Regions from separate parts of the Homo sapiens genome. Here all the other regions are linked to region 1. Evidence: fine-mapped expression QTL. A gene starts in region 1. Each other region holds a variant in brackets. All regions are shown on one strand. Distances are from middle to middle. Region 1 holds the start of KLF7 (KLF transcription factor 7). Region 2 overlaps KLF7 (KLF transcription factor 7). Region 3 has its middle 59 kb from the start of MIR2355.

What was found. PIP is the estimated chance that this variant, and not a neighbour inherited with it, causes the effect. A credible set is the group of variants that fine-mapping cannot tell apart.
Region 2: its variant is the best candidate, but not a certain one, in a credible set for the expression of KLF7 in fibroblasts (GTEx, PIP 0.52).
Region 3: its variant is the best candidate, but not a certain one, in a credible set for the expression of KLF7 in whole blood (INTERVAL, PIP 0.59).

The regions. Positions count from the first base shown.
Region 1 is chr2:207,163,969-207,168,202 of GRCh38, reverse strand. It overlaps KLF7 (KLF transcription factor 7), which reads left to right and starts at 2,255. Exons shown (of 4, transcript NM_003709.4): 1 at 2,255-2,736. The coding sequence starts at 2,635. MIR7845 (microRNA 7845) reads right to left here and starts at 1,803; the gene lies at 1,705-1,803. RefSeq lists silencers at 744-793, 1,414-2,053 and enhancers at 411-1,119, 1,120-1,827, 1,828-2,536, 2,544-2,643, 3,245-3,953 and 1 more.
Region 2 is chr2:207,131,951-207,136,184 of GRCh38, reverse strand. All of the region lies in intron 1 of KLF7 (KLF transcription factor 7), which reads left to right. Among named protein-coding and RNA genes, the nearest start is that of MIR2355, 24 kb to the right of the region's middle. The variant G/A (reference allele first, on the strand shown) is at 2,109.
Region 3 is chr2:207,049,271-207,053,504 of GRCh38, reverse strand. No RefSeq gene overlaps it. Among named protein-coding and RNA genes, the nearest start is that of MIR2355, 59 kb to the left of the region's middle. The variant G/AAAG (reference allele first, on the strand shown) is at 1,681.

The DNA.
Region 1 (4,234 bases):
ACTTGAGTCTCAAGTACCAAATTATATGGTTGGTCTTGCCTCACCTTTTGCCTCTAGTTTTCTATACCCAAGTTCCTTTCCTTCCCCTATTATTCATGAACATGTTTTTTGCCCTAGTGTTTCTCAATGGTTCCTGCCCATCCCCCCAGTTGAAATAGCATGGGGGTCAGGGGAGAGCATGGAGAAGGGGAGACCTTGTAACAAACTAGCAAGGGGTTTCTACCTTTCCTCTATCTCCAAGATTCTATTAATAGTATATTCTCCTAAAGGTCCTATTAGTTTACATAGCTCAAGTGGGGAGACAATGATAGCTAATATTTAGTATTCACCTAATAGTGTCAGATACTATGCTAGGTGAGTTACCAAAGATATTTTGACTCTTCATAACAACTAGACAACGCGGATCCCACTATTTCTGTTTCTGAGATGGGTAGATACAAGTTCTGACCCAGTAATTCGCTCAAAGTCGTGCAGCTAGTTAGCTGGCAGCGTCCTTGCACATCTAATTGCAGATGCATCTGCATCTACATTAGAGTAAATGTTCCAATTATACTCATACAATGAATGCTATGAATCTGGCCAACAGAATTCCAGACACTAACAAGTAAATAAATCAGGCTTTCCTCAATCCCAGTAATTCATGTTTAATATTCCTTGGCAAATACTGAATTTCAATCTGTGCTTATTTCATAGAGTAGAATCTTTCAAATGTTGTGTTATCGAGTCCTACATAGTCAAAGGGAGGGGAAAGACAAGGAGGGTGATTAAGGTGAAGCGTTTCTTCCATTACTGGTAGAACGAAGTTTCTCATCTCTTAAGCACCGAATTCTGCAATCATTCCAAAAGTGGAAGCTCAGCTCACAGCGCATTTTGGGGAAGCTTAAACCACACTAACCATTTAAGGTCAAGCAAACAATTGGCCAACCCTAACGTGAATTGTGCAGGGTTTTCATCTCAGATGTAACAGATCTCTCTATGTCTACATCCCAACTCCAGAAAACGAGAAATCGAGTTCCTCCTCTCACCATCGAAGCTCTGCAGACACCTCGCTGGAGACCCCATGGTGAGCCTCATCACGTAAAGGCCCCCTCGCAAGCTGCCGGCTCCAGCTTGCGCCCCACGTCTACCTAGGCTCCCTCTAGCCTCTTTAACGCACAGTCGAGCAACAGGCCCCTTGCAATCAACTCTAGCCGCCGGACTCCCGACCAGGTCTCTCGCTCGGGGTCAGAAGGAGGCGCGGGAGGGAGGGCGGCGGCGGCGGCGCCCGCGGGGCGGGGCGGGGACTGTGCGCAAGCGGGGGGCGGGCGCAGGCCGCGGTCTCGCTCCGCTCCCCTTTGTTCTCTCCCATTGTGTGGCACTTCCTCCTCAGGCGCTTCTTCTCTGCACCCTGGCAGCCCGTGGGGAGTTCGGGAAGGGGCCCTGGATGCCTTTTCTGCTTGTTTTTGAGTACGTGAGGACCTCCCCGGCACCGCCTCGCGCGGGTCCCTGCCCCGTGCCCAGGCGGAGGCGGGGTGGCCACTGTCCTTCCTTCCCGCTCCGCGCCCTCGGCGGCTTCCCCGCGGCCCCCTGCGCCGCGCCCCCTCCAGGAGGCGTCCTGACCCCGCACTCCGGCCTTTCACCTCCCGACCGTCAGCCTCAGGGCCGCCGCGGCGACGCGCGACCCCTTCCCTCTGAGGGGCGCGGGCTCCGGACGCGCCGGGCTCTGCCAGGCATCTAGTGGAGGGTCGGAGGTCGGCGACCAGCCCGAGCCCAGCCGTCCCGGGAGCTGGCGCGAGTGTCGCCACGACCCTCCCTGTCCCTTGCGCTCGCGCTGCCCGGCCGCCGGGCGGCCGCCTCAGCCCCCTTATATAGCCCTCTAAAAATAGCTCGCCTCGCACCGCCTTGTAAGGCAGCAGGGAGATCCGCAGCGTGCCAATCCGCGCCCGCCGCCAGGGCCAAGCCCCGCCCCAGGCTCTGCTCCGGGCTCCCCATTGGTCCTCAGTGACTTCATGAGCCCCCTGTTTACCTTACATGGTCACACGCGGCCTAATGGACGCCCTCCTCGAGATCCCACGGCTGCGCGGAGAACCGAACGGAGGGAGGGAGTTTGGGGAGGGGGAAGAGCAGGAGGAGGAGAAAAGGGAGGGGGAAGACTACAAACTAGCAAGGATGGGGTGGGGGGTGGGGAGGGAAGGGAAGGGGGGGGAAGAGAAGCGATCGCGAGAGAAAAAAATGCAACCTCCCAAAATAAAGAGCAAAGATTGCATTAGGAGCGAACAGCGCTGCAGAAATAGATGGCAGCTTCGTGTCAGTGAGTTTGCATCCCCCTTCCTGATCCACGAGCTGGAGTGATTAGAGCCCTGGAAGGGAATTGTTACTCCCGTGGAGAAGTCCCCTTTTCCTGGCAGTCGTCTGCACTGTACACGCTGGATGCCTCTCTCCATCCACCCCACTCACTCGCTCCTCTCTCACCTCCTCTCTCCCTCTCCTGCATTGATTTTTTTTTTTCCTTTTTAGTTGACTGAAACAAAACAAAACAAAAGGGCCACTGGATGTCTGCCTTCTTGGGGGGTGAGCCAGACAGACTGACAAACAAACAGCCCCAACTGTGTTCGGGGGAGGGTTTCGCCTCCCGTTTTGCCCGGCAGCAGCAGCATGGACGTGTTGGCTAGTTATAGTATATTCCAGGAGCTACAACTTGTCCACGACACCGGCTACTTCTCAGCTTTACCATCCCTGGAGGAGACCTGGCAGCAGGTGAATGATTTAAATTACTTGTGTAAATCGTGTGGTGGCGGCGGAGACGCAGGGGCTGCGTTGGTGTGGGCTCTGGGTTGAAATTTTTGTTTGTTTGTTTGACTTTTTTTTCTTCCTTTTTGGCTGTCTGTTGTTGAAAATGTTTTCTGAAACAGTCATCTGCGCTTACCTCTCCACCCACCCCTAACCTCGTAGAGTGCCGAGCTGAGCAGCCGGTGCGAGCTGCCTGCGTTTCAGTCGCCAACACACATCCCTGCGCACACGTTGTCGGGTTTGCTGTCCCCTATCAGAGACCTGCCGAACTTCTGGGGTTCGGAGGAGCCGGGTGGGAAGGTGGTTTGGGGTGTTAGGAGCGATTGCTGACAGGGACCACGTTCTCGCATGCATGAGCTCTACCCACTTGATACCTGAAATCAGGTTCATCTGTTTCAACTGGTGCTTATGACCATCGGATGGGGGGCGGGGGAGGGTGGGCAGGAGCAAAGCGGAGTGTTTTTCAGTAATTAGCGAGTGTCAATAAAGAATAGGAGCTTGATTTTGAGATTAGAAGGTAGGCAAAAGAGAGAAGAGCCCACTGACAAAAGATACTCAAGGAGGACGGGAAGATGTAGCTGAGGCTGACAATGAATTGTAGGTTTTCCCAGTGTGATCCCTCCAGAAAGAGAACACCCTCTATGCGTGTCCTTGTTTCTCTTTTTTGTTTAGGGTCCTTCTCTAGTTAGGCAGCACAACCTCGGACAAAGGCTGATGTGTGCTTCCATGCCTTTGACTTTGTCTTAGAGGACTAGTTAAGAAACTCCCAGGATGCTGAAGGGCACCGATGCCAAGTTGGCTAGCCGTCCCAGGGAGGATGAAGTGGGGCTGGTGACAAGTTCACTGGGCTTTGTGAAGTGGAATAAAGAAAGTGCTGGTCAGTGGAAAGTGCTGGCTCTGCTGCGGAAACAGTGGTTTTTTTCAGCAGCGATTAGGAGCTGCTGAGGGGACATTCTGCAGGAAAGATGGTGGGTGGGGGCGGGGGGACACGGGTATTTAAAAATTGTACAGTGTGCACCATGGAAAGTCCAAGAAGACAGTCCGGATTTGCACATAGGAAGTGTGAACTTGTACAGTCCGTCCTGGAGAAACCCGCTTGCCCTTGGGGGGAGGGCTGTGAGAGGCTCGGTGTGTGGCTGCTCGTGTAATTTCTTCGCTTAGTGACAGCAGCTTGTTAAGGCTAATGAACGGCTGAATTTCCTCTGCCGGGATCCAAAGCAGGATTTGCCAGCTTGAGGCTGAGATGTAACAGTCTCTGCTTTAGCAAAAGAGGTTTGGCTTTTGGTATAAGGAGCCGAGTGGCAAGGCGGATCCTTTAACTGTACCATTGTTGCTAGTTCACTTCTGGTCAGAGGCTGTGAGTTTTCCTCCAGGTATTGGCGTCTGGTGTCTCTGTGTCCACACATGCATTCTTGTCCAAGGACGCTAGCAGATGCTTGACTCTGTCTCTCTGTAAACACATACA
Region 2 (4,234 bases), 32 kb after region 1:
TTTTCAGGGAAGGAAGTGAATTCTCTACTCAGATTCAGTAGTTTGCTGGAAAGGGAAGGGGTGGTGTGGGAAAGGCAGGCGCTGAACCTGATTCCCAGGCCAGAGTTCTTTTCACCAATAAAAAATGACAGTTGAAAATAGCGTTTTGTTCACTCATCCTAATTGCTTCTCTTCCTGGTGGTTTCTGGAGGCCAGAGGAGAAAAGAGGAAGTGGCAGAGGGAGAGGGCATTCTCCAGGGCAAGGAGACAGCTTTTACTTCCAACACAGGTGCATACTCTCAGGGCTACCCCGTGAAGCTAAATTGGCCTCTCTGTTTAGAAATCCGGATCTGTCCCAGACAGTAAGCATTTAATTTTTTTTTTTTCCAAATGAAAAACGTTAGAGACAAGTAAATAACACCTATAGTTAAATCTGAAAATACTGACGTGTTCTACCAGAAATGTTGGTAATAAACACATGCACACTGCTTCTGATGTTCCTTTGGTGAAGAAGGAAGAATTTCTGGCTTTCATGATACTCTTGAATCTCTTCCTACCCAGGATTGTGATCACTGTTGACTTTCACTTTGATTGTTTGGGAGTTGATTCAATTACTCATTCATTCATTCATTCATTTGACAAATGCTTGAGGCAGGCTGCAAGTCAGGCACAGGTCTGGTATCTTTGAAGAGTCACATTCTTGTGAAGTTTACGTTTTAGATGTTGTGAGGCTTGTATCCATGGTGAAGCAGGAAATTAAACCTTCATAGCATCCTGTAAACATGGATTATTGAGTGTCTTAGGGCTTTTAATAAAGGCCTTGAGGTCCCTGTCAGAGGAGGGTTCAAAGACCACTTTCTTCCAGGTTCTCCAAACCCTTTTTTTTTTTAACCACTCAATGACAGCAGAGCTATCTATCAGTTCCTCTGAACTTGTTCTGAATGAGCTTTTCTTACTGTTCAGTCTTCACTCTCCTATTACTGTTTTGCTTCCTCATAGAATTCCAGATTAGTGGGCCCCTGGAAGTTCAGCTGGTAGATGAGAAAACTGAGCCCATTGAAGTTAAAGTCACCCAGCTAGTCAGGGTTGATCTTCCCAACTCAGAGTCCCCTGCTTACTTAAACTTTTATATCCAACAGGTTTACTTCCCCTGGAAACTTATTTGGTATTTTTTATTTTCCATCTCCATGCCCTCGATAGGTTTCTTTATGTCTGTCTGGAAGTGTAATGAAAAATAACACTAGTTATTGAATAGCTACAACATACAGAGTGTGCATGCCCAGCCCTTCCAAGTACTTGGCATGTCAATTGATTGAACTCTCACAATGCTTCTGCGTTGTAGGTACTACTATTACCCCATTTTACAGGTGAGGAAACTGAGGCACAGAGGGGTTAACTTCTCCCAGGGGGATTGAGCTAGTGAGTAGTGTAACCTGATATTGGACCCAGGCAGTCTGGCTCCAGGGCCAATGCTTGGGTCCCTGTTCTTCTGCCTCTCAGTATGCGAATGGCCAGTCTGTTTCTTTAATTGGAGTGAGTGGCACTTGGCACACCCACACAGCCACCTTAAACATTGTGGGAAATCAAGTCCAAGTATCTCAAGTAACAGTACAACAATCCATATCAGGAAAAACAGCTTAGGGCTTGACTTCATTATGGTTTTGGCTGCCATTTTATGCATTCTGAGTAGAAGAAACATTCCTCCTAGCGCCCCCACCTTGTCTTTAACATTCCGCAGTGGAAGTTCCTCAAAGCTCTCCGTTTTGAAAGCATCCTCTATGATTACCAGCCACTAAATTGCATCTGCCACCGAGGGCCCAATGGGCTTTGAACCTGTTATTCTTGGGAAATTCAAGCTGCGAGGGAGAGAGAGAACGTTGTACACGTGTGCAGCTGTGCTTTGGAGTACAAGAAGTAATCGTATGTGTCTGTGTGTTTTTTATGGGGGTAGGGGAAGGGTATATTAATTAACCCAACTGAGAAGGAGATGACTGTGTTCCAGGAAGGAGCCAATGAAATGAGTTTGCTTTAAAAAAAAAAAAAAAAAAAAATCCCAGTAGCCCGAGTCAGCCTGTGCAAGTGATTTGGGAGAGGAAGGGGAGATGATGTAACTGGTTCGGCATGTTCCC[G/A]TCTTGGCCAGTGAGTGTAAAGGGGCCCAGGGAGTTTGAGGAGGGTGTGTGAGTGTGTGTGCAAAGTTAACAGGAGCGGGTGGGGGTGCATAAGAGCGGGCTGTAAAACAGGATTAATAATGCCTTGTCAGACCTTTCCCTGTTACTGTGTTTTTCAGTAATTTTGGTTTGAATGAGGGCTCTCTAGCCAATTAATGTTTATTTGTTTCCTTTGGCAAGATCCACTGGGGGGAGGAATGAGATTGGTGAGTTTAAAATTTTTGTTTTGTTGTTGCATTTTGGAAGAAGAGGCGAGTAATGTGAGTTTGGGTTTTCAATGATGGCTCCCCCCCTCCCCCTCTTAAGAGGCAGGAGGCAAGACATGGCCAGCTGGTGCCTTGAACTGACACAGGTGCAGAGGCTGTAGGGGGTGGGGAGCCAAGAATAATTACAGGTTTCTGAAGCATCAGGCCCTGCCTGACACAAGCGCTCGTCAAGAAAACTGCTCTTTATGGAAAATTAATGGGAAGCTGAAAAAGCGACAGGGCCATTGTTGTTCTTAGGAAGCCATCACTCCTCTGAAAAGAGGCCTCCTCCCACGTCCTTGGGCTCTTGACGAACTGCTTAGAGTCCTCTCCTTTTGGAGCAGGGACCGACTGGTTGCCATTGTCATGGGATGTGATGGGTTTTTCCCATTGGAGTGTCTCTCCTGCATTTTCTCATTCTTAAATCTCACTTTCAGTGCAGATCCAGCCCTTTGCACTTCCCAGTAGTATGGGTAGGATTATTTTTATTGACTCTTTAAGATGTGAATTTCATTTTGTCCGTGGAAGTGTAATGACCAAAGCAGGGCCATCTAATGGAACTTGCTTTCAATCTGTATGTAACAAGTGGGATTTCCACCAGTGAGTGCCAACCTGAATAGGGGCCTGGTTGGGAGATGAGGGCATAGGAGATGAGGGGATAGCATACAGGAGCATCTTCTAGGCCCCAGCTCTGCATAAGCAGTGTTGTCTCTTGACTATTCAGAAGCTGTAATTTAGTTATAGTCCAGTGGCCAAGTAATAGTGAGCAATTCTTCTTAAGGGCTCTCTGCAACTGTGGGTAGAGGCCAGGCCAACAGACTCCCAGTCAGTATGTCCTGCAGAGTAACATCTGGAAAAACAACTCTAAACCAAGTTAGAGAAGCCTCTCTGTGCATGGGCCATCATGTCCCTAATGGTCGCATTGAATTTTGAGGATCACAGACATAATGAATGAGGAAAATGCATTTCCAAGTTGTTGGAAGTGTAGGGGAACCCAGTGCCTTCCTTCAAGCGGTGTGAGGCCTGGGCCATAGCTACCAGCTCTGCCCAGGTTATGTGACTTTAAAGCTCACTTTGATGGTTAATTTAGATTTGAGTTGTTTTGGGAATTTCTTTTATGCACTGCAACTAAGGAATCCTTGGAAGATGAAAGGGGTATTTGAGGCTGCTTTGCATCATGTGCCTGGGGAAAGTAATTTCAAAGACATCACCCTCTCCCCAGGCCTTTAATCTTGTCTCCTTTCTCCCCCTCCAACATCCTCACCACCCACCTCCCCAAGGAAACATATGCAAACAAATATTTTCTTTGTTTGTTGAAAATAGGAGAAGAGAAACATGGAAGAGGTTTTGATAGAAATTTTTCAGCTTTCATGTTTGTTTAGATTTAAATTAGTTTTCACAGCATTGTCTCTCAAAATTTACAAATTACCAGAGGGAAATATATAACTTGGTTTCAGCTCTAGCAACCAGTAGATGTGAGAAACAGTGGAAAGCAATGCAGTCTTAACATTTGTTGTAGTCCCCTGGTTATTTCATGGAGTTCAGCAATCCTGACAGTAATGTGTAATGCTATTGTACCTCTGGGGTGTGCTATTGTTGTGGGTTTTCTTTTAACCTAATAGCTTAAAAAAAATGCAGTAAGATTTTCACTCATACTGTCTACTTGATTATCCACATTTTCTAGATGAAATTCTTTCTCTCCTAATATTTCCTGGTCATGAAAGGCAAGAAAAAGTGAACATATGCTTAATATCTTGTTAGGAATCACTCTCTAGGTCTCCCAAGGTGGATGCTTGCACTGGTTCATGCATCCTTTCTGCCACGAGGTAGATTCAGTGTTAC
Region 3 (4,234 bases), 110 kb after region 1:
TCTGTTGACAGAGATGTATCCCTAACTCAGGCCTTTCATACTATTACTTCCCAAATTCTCTGCCAGAGACTTTCACATTCCTTATTCCTTCTCCATCTTACAGCTTCATTCAGTAGAATGAAGACCCTCAAGACCCTCCAGCCTCAAGGTGAGAACAGCCTTTTCTTTACTCTGCGACTTCCCCTAGGTAATCAAGACGTAGCTTTTAATGATCTACTGCAATATGATGGCTTCCACATACGGGTCAAGCCACCAGTGTACAATTTGGTTTCTATTTCCACTGTGCTCTGATGCCACCGCTGGCCCTGAGGCCACTTCCGGCCCCAGCAGTGTCATATTCCCTGACCATACCCAAGCCCCCTTCCTCCTGGGCCTTGCCCCAGGATTTGGGACGCCAGTTTCTGGTTCTTCAGTGTCCACCATTTTGGTTTCCTCAGACCACTCCTCTGTCCCTTGTGGCATCTGCTCTTCCTGATCTTTGAATATAGTGATTTTTAGAGATTATGCCCATGTGTTCCCTCTATCCGCTCCCTCTTGTTAACCTCACTTCCTCCCATTTTAAACAAATGACCTCATCTCTATTCATCATGTCCCCAGCCTGGTTCTAAACTCTGAACTAGCTTTTCCACCTTCCTTTGAGACATCTTCAACTGAATATTTTTGAAACTTCACATTCTACTTCCTAAAACTAAATTGATCAGTGTTCTCGATTTCGTTTTAGGGTGGTTTGGGTTTGCCCAAACCCGAACCATCTTTTTCTCCTAAATTTCCTATTTCCATTCATTTCTTGATCTATAGACATCTCTTGATCTAGAAATAGCTCAAGGTAATTCCAGGGGGCAGGGATGAGGGGAGGGTGGGCTCTGCTCTCACTGCCATTCAGGGATCAGGGTGAGGGGAGCTTCTGTCATCTTCAGTGCATGGCTTCTGAGGAAGTCCCAAGCATTGACATCCAGATGGCAAGAGGAGAAAAGGCACTGAGAATCCTGTGTGGAGATTTACACAGGCCAGGCCTGGGAGTGGCGCACATCATTTTGTTCACATTTCATTGGCTAGAACTTGGTCACATGGTGTAATTGCCAAGGAGGCTGGGTAATATCTGACTGTGTGTCCCAGAGAAGATGGGTTTTAATGAGTAGTTAGCTGTCTCTCATTCTCCCTGTAACCTGTGTCCAAAGACTAAAAGGTGGTGTCCTTTACTCCTCCTGATCTCCTTCCCTTTTCCAGTTAGTCACCAGCTCCTGTTGTTATTTCCTCTACAATACCACTCATCACATCCAGCCTCTGTTTTCTATCCTGAATGTCACGCCATCTTAGCCCAGGCCCTCATGAGCTCTAACTGGACAACTATAATGGCCTTTAAATTCCAAGTCTTTCTCCCTTCTAATCTCTCATTCATTCCACCAATACTTATCAAGCACTATATTCTGGGCAGCATGTTAACAACTAGAGGCAAATAAAGAAATGGATAGACCTTGACCCTGCATTTTTAATCTTGCACAGAAAATCAGTTAAAAAAATGGCTGCTACAAAAAAATTAGCTGGGCATGCAGGCACGCACCTATGGTCCCAGCTACTCAGGAGGCTGAGGCAGGAGAATCACTTGAACCTATGAGATGATGCCACTGCCCTCCAGCCTGGGTGACAGAGAGAGACTCTGTCTCAAAAAAAAAAAAAAAA[G/AAAG]GCTGTTATCACATTAAGTTGTTATTACCGCTAATGGGGAAGTGCAGGGTACAAGAGGAACATGTGGGAAGGCCCCAAACTCCCTATTTTTTCATGTAAGCAGGACACATCCCCTTCACTGTTCATTGTTCCCTGGCCTGCCATTCTGTTTTATTTTTATTACAGTCCTTAACATCATCTGAAATTATCATATATATTTATGTTTATTTAATGATTCTGTGTCTTGTCCCACCAGAATGGGAACTCCACCAAGAGCAGAGACTGTGACTCACTTGTCAGCAGTAGATTCACTGGGTTGAACAGTGCTGACACATAGTAGAAAGGGATCTAGGGGCCAGGCACAGTGGCTCACGTCTGTAATCCCAGCATCTTGGGAGGCTGAGGTGGTTGGATCACCTGAGGTCAGGAGTTCAAGACCAGCCTGGCCAACATGGTGAAACCCTGTATCTACTAAAAATAGAAAAATTAGCCAGGCATGGTGGCACACGCCTGTAATCCCAGCTACTTGGGAGGCTGACAGGAGGAAATCACTTGAACCTGGGAGGTGGAGGTTGCAGTGAGCCAAGATTGCGCTACTGCACTCCAGCCTGGGAACAGAGAGAGACTCTATCTCAAAAGAAAAAAAAAAAGGAAAGGGATCTAGTCTGGGGGTTCAGATTAGGTTTCTGGAAGAAATGATCTGTAGCATGAAGATGGAAAGATGCACGCAAGCTAACTAGGTTGGTGGTGGGAAGGAGGGAGGAATCACCATTCAAAGCCAGGAGGAGAGAGAACATGGCTGAAATTCAGTGTTGGGGAGGGGGAGAGTTGAAGCTAGACCTTGCTTGTAAACTAGGTGTGTAGGTTTAAATTTTCTCCTGAAACCAATGAGGAGTCACATTAGGATCCAATTAGAGTTTTAAACCCCTCTAGTGCTCTTTGTAGAATAAATGGCAGGGCTGAGGGCTGGGGAACCTGTGAGAACGCAGGGAAGATAGCCTGGTAGCATGAGCCAGAACAGGTCTGGTGCCTTCCAGATCAACTTTTCAAAAGTATTAGCGCAGATGATATCATCCCCTCAAAGAAAAGTGTTCCAATGGTGACTGTAACAAAACGTTGGATGATTACTACATTTTTCCACTTATATTTTATCTTTCCTAGTTCAAGTCCTGCCTCCTCCTAGAGGCTTTCCATGATTCCCCCTACTCTAAACTGCTGCAGAATTTTATATTTATATAATTCATTTGTCATGAATGCACTGTCCTATAATTTTCGTAACCTTTGCAGTTATGCCCAGCGTTCCCCCAATAGATTTCTAGCGTCTTCAAAAACTAACTTTTGTTTGTTATTTTATAAAAGTGTGCTTGTAGAAATGTAATTTGAACAAACTAATTCATGCTAGAGTATTTGTCACTGATTATGACAACTACCCCCATGATATAGGAATCTCAAAAGAGGAAAAAGGGAAAAAGAGTTCTTTAGGAAAAGAGAAATGTTTAGCCCCATCTTTCTGAGAACATATCTTCTTAGGATGTTACAAAGTAGAAATATGGCCCATTGCTTCACCCCAATGCTACAGACAAATCGTAGTGAGATTTCTGGCACCCCTGGGGAGAGATTTTTAAGTGAAAGAAGATGATGATACCCTACGTTGCCTCCATGGATATCCTAAAGTCAAGCGTGCTAGCACCTTCCTGACGATCAGTAGCTCCTTCTTTCCTCTGGAACATTCAAATGTTGACAATCACGTACTCCAGCAGGTGGAAGTGGATTTAGAAAACGTGTGATCCTTTGTCTGGGTCTTTGACTGACAGTCTCACAGAGCAGGGTGGCAGGGAAATATATTTTAATTCCAGGTGATATTGGAGAGCCACCCAATTGTGAAAAGGAGATTTTCTCTTAAATGCAGCCTTTCTCTTCCTATTTCCATCCTCCAAAATCCAGACCATCAAGGCCAGACTTGCAATTCAGAGAAAGAAGAGCACCAGAGGGCCCAGTGGGGTTTTTATTTCTGAAGTGTTTGTGCTGCAAGAGGTCAAAGGGGGTAGGGAATTGTGTTTGGAGGAAGCAGAGTAATTGTCACCTGGGAAGCCAGTTATTCACAAACTCTAGGAAGTAAAAATGAAAAAGCCCTTTTATATCAACCCGTGTCTCCCCTTGTCAGGGCAGAATTTGCCAGTGATAATTGCTGCTGAGGTGAACATCTCAATGTTAAGACATCATTTATTCCCCTTTCCTTTGTCTTTCGGACCATCCTTACATGACTTCCATTTTCTCAGTCTGCTATTTCTCATTTTCTTTTTAATAATAATTAAACTAGCAGGTACTTATCTTTTGCAGGACTTACGTTTGCATTTGTTTTGCTTTTTGTGTGTCACACCATCATTGTAGTTACATGAAAATACCCCTTTTTCATAAAAACTTCATTTTTAATAGCTCTTATGATTGCAGTGTTAAATCATTGCATCATTTGCTGGTTTGGGGTGTGAAAAGATGTTGCGTGCATGTGGCTCCTCAAGGGCTAACACACACGGACTATTCACCAGTTTGTGCAAGAAGGTAAATGAGAATATCT